Homo sapiens: one gene and its partner. The protein of the gene in region 1 purifies or fractionates together with the protein of each later gene. This does not show direct contact. Each region holds a gene or a part of one and is shown on either strand. Other genes may lie near its edges.

Region 1 (3,653 bases):
CATGAGCCACTGTTCTCAGTCAGATCTACTTTCTTGATAAGTTGTTTTGAATATTTTATTATGCTTGTCTTTATATACCTTAAGCATGAAGATAGGAGTTAAAGTAAATTAATAATTTTATAATTATTTTAACCATTATAAAATAATTTAATGATAATTAGCATATTTTGATTATTTTTCTTGTCTCATATACTTCTGTTTTATTAAAATTGCTGCTACATACATATTTTGCTACATAAAGATTCATAGCTCTTCACTGAAAATCAAAATCTTTAACATATAAAGTACCCATTGTGTGTCATTTAATAATCTTGGTTCTGATGTCCAACTTATGGGATATTAAAATTATTATCTTTGGTTTTCTTTTGAATTTGCTTGGTATAATTTTATGCTGTCTTTTATTTTTAATCTGTCTGAAACACTTTTAGGTTTGTCTCCTGTATATAACAGAGCTGAATTTTCTCCAATTAAAAGCTGTTTTTCTTTCATTAGGAGTTTACATTTATTGATGTGAGTGATACTTATAGACTTGGTTTTATCATATTATTTCATATTTTGTTATATATGTATGTGTATATTTATTTTCTATTAAAAATATATGGTGGTATTTAGGAAGGTTCAAAATTTGTTTCTAGTGGTGACCTATATACATTTAAATTTATATAATATCATTATTCCTCTTTATCTTTAGACAGTTTAAATTGGTTCCTTGTTATAAACAACAATAAACTTATCTTGTATTCTTACCCCTCCTTCACCCCTTCTATCTTCCCTACCAGTAAATTTGTATCATTTGTATTATCTTAGTGTTTATTTTGTATTTAACATTAATGTGAAATATTCATATGTGTCTATGGTTGCTTTCATTCTCAACTTTGCAAATGATCAGGCAATAAGGGAATTTATTTTACCCTCTCTTCCCTGTCTCTATTTTTTCTTAGTTATACTATTTCAGTGCTGTCTGAGCATATAACATTTATATTTCCTTCAGTCACACTTAAAATCACATTTGTTTTTTCTTAGATCTGCATGTACAATGTTTGCTACCATTTTTGTTTATTTTGGCTAAAGTTGCCATTGTCATCTCTTGGTTGGCTGTAGTTTGTCCTATGGTGGTTTCCAAAAAAAAGTCCCAAGTGAAAATTATTCTTTGAGTTCTTGCAGGTTCAGATAATATATCTGAGGCATTGATACCTAGAAGATAATGGGGCTTGATATAGTCCTTGGCTCATCCTTTCTTTTCTTGGATGTCTTATAGGTACTGCTGCACTATCTTTTGCTAGTGAATACTACTGATCTGAAATTTCTTCTCATATGGCTTGATCTTTGTTTGACTATCTAAATTATTATTCTTTATCTTTGAAACCTAATACTTTTACTCTTAGTTGTTTTGGTAGAAATCACTTGGTTTAATTTTTTGCTACTATGTGATGTGCAATTTTAATATGTAGATTGACGTATTGTTTTATTTTAGTAACATTTACTTGAAATATATATATTTTTTGAGTCAAGGTCTCACTCCCTTTGCCCAGGCTGGAGTGCAGTGGCACGATCATAGCTCACTGCAGCCTCAACTTCCTGGGCTCAAGCAATCCTCCCACCTCAGCCTCTCAAGTAGCTGGGACTACAGGAGAGCAGCACCATGCCCAGCTGATTTTTGTATTTTTAATAGAGATGGGGTTTTGTCATATTGGCCAGGCTGGTCTTGAACTCCTGGTCTCAAAGAATTCACCTGCCTCAGCGTCCCAAAGTACTGGTATTACAGGAGTAAGCCACCACACCTGGCCTGAAACAAATTTTTAAAAAGCTATTTTGTTCTACTTGGATTCCTTCTTTAGGTTATCCAATTAAGCCTATGTTGATTCTCTTTTGCTTGTTACCTATATCTATTAGTTTTCTCTTATCTTTTCCGTTTGTTTCATTTTTGTTGATTTTCTCATTTTTATCCTCTGTTTTCCTTATTGTGTATGGCTTCCATAAGGGAAAGTGAAAAGAATCAGAACTAAGATGCTGTTGAAACACTAAGGTGTTCCCATTGAAACAACCAGAAACAATATTTTGCACTTAGTCTCTGGGCTAGGTTGGAAAAACTACATTTTAAAGAAATTTTAAAGTAAAGAAATACTTAATTGTAGTTGTAGTTGAGATATATTTTCTTGAAGTTATTATTCAATAAATTCCACAGGCTCTTAGATTGCTGAAGGTGACATTTGCTTTAGTGTTCTATCACATTGTAAGTTTATTCCTTGATGATGCTACAATTTGATATCATTGATGATTATCAATATCCTTGATGATGCTACAATTTGTAATCATTCATATCTTTTGTTTTTTTCTGTTAGCATAAGATAGAGGGCAGGAAGACGAACTGAGGAAAGAGTAGGACATATCAAGAGCCGTAAAAATGGAAGTGGTGAACTGAAAGCTAATGATGTATGGGAATAAGACACCCACCTGGAAGTCAGAGGAAGCTTCAAGCCAAAGATGGGGAGATTGTGGACTCAGTAATCTAGCTGGTACTCTCACCCAGAGACAACCACAGAACACGCTGAAGCCAGCCTTTTATTGTTGTGCTTGAGCTCTGGATGAACTGCATTCCTGATCCCTAGTAGATGCTCAGTAACAGATTAAGGAATGAGGGTCCAAAGGAAAAAACACACGCATCTCATTGCAGTAATGAAATTTTACTGAATGGAGTGCTTAATGGGAAATGATATCCAAGAACATATGATTTCCTTATTTTAATATTGAGTAACAATTCTATTTGCTCAGACCTCTTTAATTTAATTTAGGGTAGGAGGAATTCCATTAAAATCTTTGATCTATCTTATTCAGATTTTTCTTAATTGGCTCAACCACTAGTCGTTGTGAAGTCCAAGATAGAGGAGTTGGCTGGAGTCATCCTCTCCCACAATGTGAAAGTAAGTAAAGACTCTTCTGACTTGACTATCAATTTAAACTCTGTTAGGTAATAAAGTCCCTGTGCATCTTTACAGGTATGTGTACCTTCCATTAGAATTTGCATGAATTTTAGATTTATCATGATGCCTTCGCTGAGTATTTCTTTCTCTTCACTCACTTACCTCAGTTGTCAAGTGTAAGCCTCCTCCAGACATCAGGAATGGAAGGCACAGCGGTGAAGAAAATTTCTACGCATACGGCTTTTCTGTCACCTACAGCTGTGACCCCCGCTTCTCACTCTTGGGCCATGCCTCCATTTCTTGCACTGTGGAGAATGAAACAATAGGTGTTTGGAGACCAAGCCCTCCTACCTGTGAAAGTAAGTCATAATGATGAATTCTGCATCAAAATGTTTGCTCTCTTTTGTTTAAAAGAGAAAGAAAGGTAAATTTATTGGGGGGCAAATGGAAAATTCAAAGATAAACTAACTATCGCTCTGATGCAATCATTTATTTGGCCACCTGATACTTATTGCATGTTTGTTTAGAATATAAAAGCCATAAAAATGGGAGTGGTGAACTGGGAGCTAACAGTATATGGGAACAAACAGCAACAACATCTCACTGGTTTGGTGAAGTAAAAGTTTATTCTCATTTACACTGAGTTTGTTCCATGTCCAGGAGACTCTCCAGGGCAGCCGTAGTCTGTGTTAGCTTAGCAACTAGCTCAGCAAGCCAGGTTGCTTTGATCTT
Region 2 (3,753 bases), on another chromosome or scaffold:
AATATAATGGCAAATGTAGAGAACCAGGCATTTTTGAAATGGCATGACCAAGAATTAGTCACCCAGTGATCCAAACTGCTTATGTTAATTTTTTAGACTTGATCAAAACAAAAACATAAAACAAAAATTCTTACAGACTGACGAGCATATAACCAAGCATTGACAGTTTTTAAAACCTAATATGGAACAAATTTAAATAAATCTAATGTGGTAACCTTCTACCTTTGTAAACTCACTTGAAATTTGGAACTCAACACATTCTAGACTAATTTTCTTATTACAGGAGTGACTACTTTGAAATTATAAGGTATGCTTACAAAAAATACTTATATCCCAAGCTACACTGTAGTGCAGTGGAGCTGCTCGCCTATTAAAGACATGTATGTTCGTTTTCATTTAGCTTCTTTTCAGGACAGAATAATCTGAATTTATGACATTTTAAACTGGTGTATGTAAAGACTTAATTTAAAAGATAAAGATTCTCTAAAATGTCTCAGTATAGTTAGAAAAATATTTATAGGGCTCTAACAAATAAAAGCAGAGACTAAAGGACACTTAACAGTCCACATTCTGCCTCACTTCTTGCCCAATTTTCAACCATCTCTTAGGGGAAAAAAGCTGTTTCTGAAACTACAGTTGCCAGATATATATCCCTTAAGCATTCCAGCAGGAAATATAAATGTTTGTGTTTTATTTTTCTTAGATGATTAAATGGCCAAAACAATTAAGCTACTTAAGTACTTTAGGAACGGGAATATCTGCATCAACCAGGGAAATCCTCATTACATTTCACTAATGATAAAAGGGCCTTAGGAAATGGACAGCAGTCCTTCCTCAGGGACTGCAAAGACTTCTGGGAGGGCGTCCAGTTAGCAACACTGAAATGTTGCTGAGGAAACATAAGTATGTACCCACAGTACTGTCGCAGAGGAATGTAGGGCTGGACAGGCCCTGCTGGCAAGAAAGAAAACACTATACCAGGTCACACTGTTTTGCAGCTGAAAATTCAAATTTAGGGAGAAACGCAGGACTGTGTCTTGGCCTGAAAGAAAAATGGGACTACTAAACAAAATACCGTTTAATCCTTACAAGTTCTTAATAGTGGATTTTTCCCACCAAGTATCAGGCACTGGTTTACAGATTTCCTAATTTCTCAATAAAAGCCTTCAATCTCTTGATTTCACCATGCAACATTTGCAAGAAATGAAATATTTTATCAATCAAATCCTACAGATGCATTAAAACGAGGCAGGGTTATCCTGGTTAACTCGGAACACAGGGAAGAGGAATCATGATCTCCCTTGTCTCCAAACTCCTCTCTGCCTCCCAAGCCTTCAGGGGCCCAACGCCCCAGTACTCTGAATCTTTATCAAACACCAGAACCTCCCAGTCTTCAAATATGCACCAGTACCCTAAGACAGCTCTTTCCCTTTCACTTTCCCTCTCGGAAATATTCCATTGGTTCAGTCCAGTCACTGGATTACTGCCCCTGCCCGCCTCGGTCTTTACCACTGACCTCTCCCATTCTGGAAAACCCCCACCTTTCCTTGGTCCTGCAAGATTCCTGAGTCCCCCAAACTCAGGACCCTTTCCAGACACCACACCCCCAGCCCCGGCCACCTCCTCAGCCCCTGTCGCCACCCTCTCTTCCAGAGTCTCCTAACTTTCCGATCCAAGAAATTTTGGAGACCCCACCACCGCCATTCCTTGCGGCAGCCCATTCTTCAACGATCTCTAGGCGCTAACACCACTCCTCCCTCCCCGCCCATCTACACACCCTGCTGCCTGCTCCCTGGGTTCCTGCATCTCTCAGGGACCCCGCTTCTCAGGCCCCTTGGAGACCCTACCACCTTGGACCCCTTCAGACACCATACCCTCCGTCCTCAGGCCCGCGGAGACCCTGACCCAACCAGACACCGCCGTCTGCTCCTGACACTTGGAAGCGCCCTTTCCCTGGCCCGGCCTGTCTCCTGCCCTGCGCCCGAGCCCTCCTAGCCTTCCTAAGCCCACACTGCCGCCCCCCTTTACCACTGGATAGAGCGGCGGACACAAGCAGGAGCGCCAAGACCAGCGGCCGCGCCAACCCCACAAGGGCTTGGATGGCCGACCCGGGCAGCAGTTTCGCTTGTGCTGGCCCCCTCATCCTCTTCGGGACGGCAGCGGCCATAACGGACTCGGCTGGGAGCCTGCGCTGTTGCTAGGCTCTACGCCATGAGGTCAGACGCCGCGGCCCTCGGCACATACGTCCCAGCGTGGTGACGTCGAAGCCTGGAGACGTGCTCTGGAAACCGGAATAAGAAGGAAGGATTGCAGGGAGGAGGGAGTTGCCGCTAGGCGAAAGTGGGGACCGCCACACAGTTGGCTGCGGATTAAAGGTAGGGTGTGACGTGCTGAAGAGGGCCAAAGCGAGCCCCTCCCTGCCGCCTGCATGATTGGGTACTATACAGCCAAAAATAGCGTTTTTAGCCATTTTAAAAAGGAAGATCCAGCTGTAGAACAGACTGATCACGAAAGCGAAGTAACTGCTCTTCCTCTCTCAAAGGCGAAAGAAACACAAATGTTAAGTAGTCCTATTTCGGTGATGGGATTATAAGTAATTTTTAAAAATCTTTCCCGACAGTCATTTATTTTTTTTCAACAAAGATTTAGCACCTCTCCCTATTTAAGATACAGCAGTGAACAAAAAGAACCCCCCACCCCCCCGCCCGCCTTGGCAGTTTATTTTCTTGTGAGGGCGAATATGGTGTAAAATACACACTATACAAGATGATAAAGATATTATGGACCGGCCCTAGTGCAGTGGCTCCCAGCACTTTGGGAGGCCGAGGAGGGCAGATCACCTGAGGTCCGGAGTTGGAGACCAGCCTGGCCAACATGGAGAAACCCCGACTCTACTAAAAATACAAAAATTAGCCAGGCGTGGTGGCGCGTGCCTGTAATCGCAGCTACTCGGGAGGCTGAGGTAGGAGAATCGCTGTAACCCGGGAGGTGGAGGCTGCAGGGAGCCGAGATGCCACTGCACTCTAGCCTGGGCCACAGACTCCGTCTCAAAAAAAAAAAAAAAATTATGGAGGAAAAGAAAGGAAGGTAGCTAGGAAGTAGAGGTGAGGGGCTGCCATTGAAAATAACTTTCAGATTTCCTAAAATAAGCTTCTCTTTTTAAATTTTGTTACTTGAAATCCCCAGTGTATAAAAATGCAAACTTACAAACTTCCAAGAAGTTCACCTAGGGCCCTGGCGCCATACTTTGCTCTGTGTGTACGTTCTGTAAATGTCTCCTTAATAAACAGATACAGGCTTCAATTCATAAAAGTTCCATTTGATCAATTTCAGGAAAATCAATGTGACGTTAAGCAAGACATTTATTGTGCCCACAGCTTCACCATTCTGGTCTCTATGATTCCCTGCGAAGATTGCTGTTATCCCCCAGAGACACAGCTGAGCTGTCTCTCTAAAGGGCCTGTGTTCTACTCCTGAATCTGGTTTCCCCTAAGCTTTTATCTCACCCTGGTGACAGCTCAGAAACACACAAACTCTGTGTTAAGAAAACTAAGAAGTCATTCATCTGCACATTTCCCGAAATCCCCCAGAAGCCCGTATTAGACTGAATGGTGTCCTTATTGCAAACTCTCCACTTTAGCCAAGGTGCAAAGTCCTCCCAGTCCCCCAGGAGCTTCCCTTCTCTGAGCGGTACTTAAGTTTTCTGTAAAACCACTCAGTTCAACAAATGAGCTTCTCAATCTTAGTTTCTGC

Evidence for each region. Proteins that work in one complex are often made in the same cells at the same time.
Region 2: the proteins of C4BPA (region 1) and C5orf15 purify together in Homo sapiens (affinity purification with mass spectrometry; one large-scale study listed by BioGRID and IntAct). This does not show direct contact.

The regions. Positions count from the first base shown.
Region 1 is NC_000001.11:207,121,087-207,124,739, forward strand, and holds part of C4BPA (C4b-binding protein alpha chain precursor), read left to right. Parts: intron 1-2,835; coding exon 2,836-2,921; intron 2,922-3,088; coding exon 3,089-3,280; intron 3,281-3,653. UniProt on the Homo sapiens protein: Controls the classical pathway of complement activation. It binds as a cofactor to C3b/C4b inactivator (C3bINA), which then hydrolyzes the complement fragment C4b.
Region 2 is NC_000005.10:133,966,418-133,970,170, forward strand, and holds the start of C5orf15 (keratinocyte-associated transmembrane protein 2 precursor), read right to left. Parts: upstream 2,209-3,753; 5' UTR 2,168-2,208; coding exon 2,029-2,167; intron 1-2,028.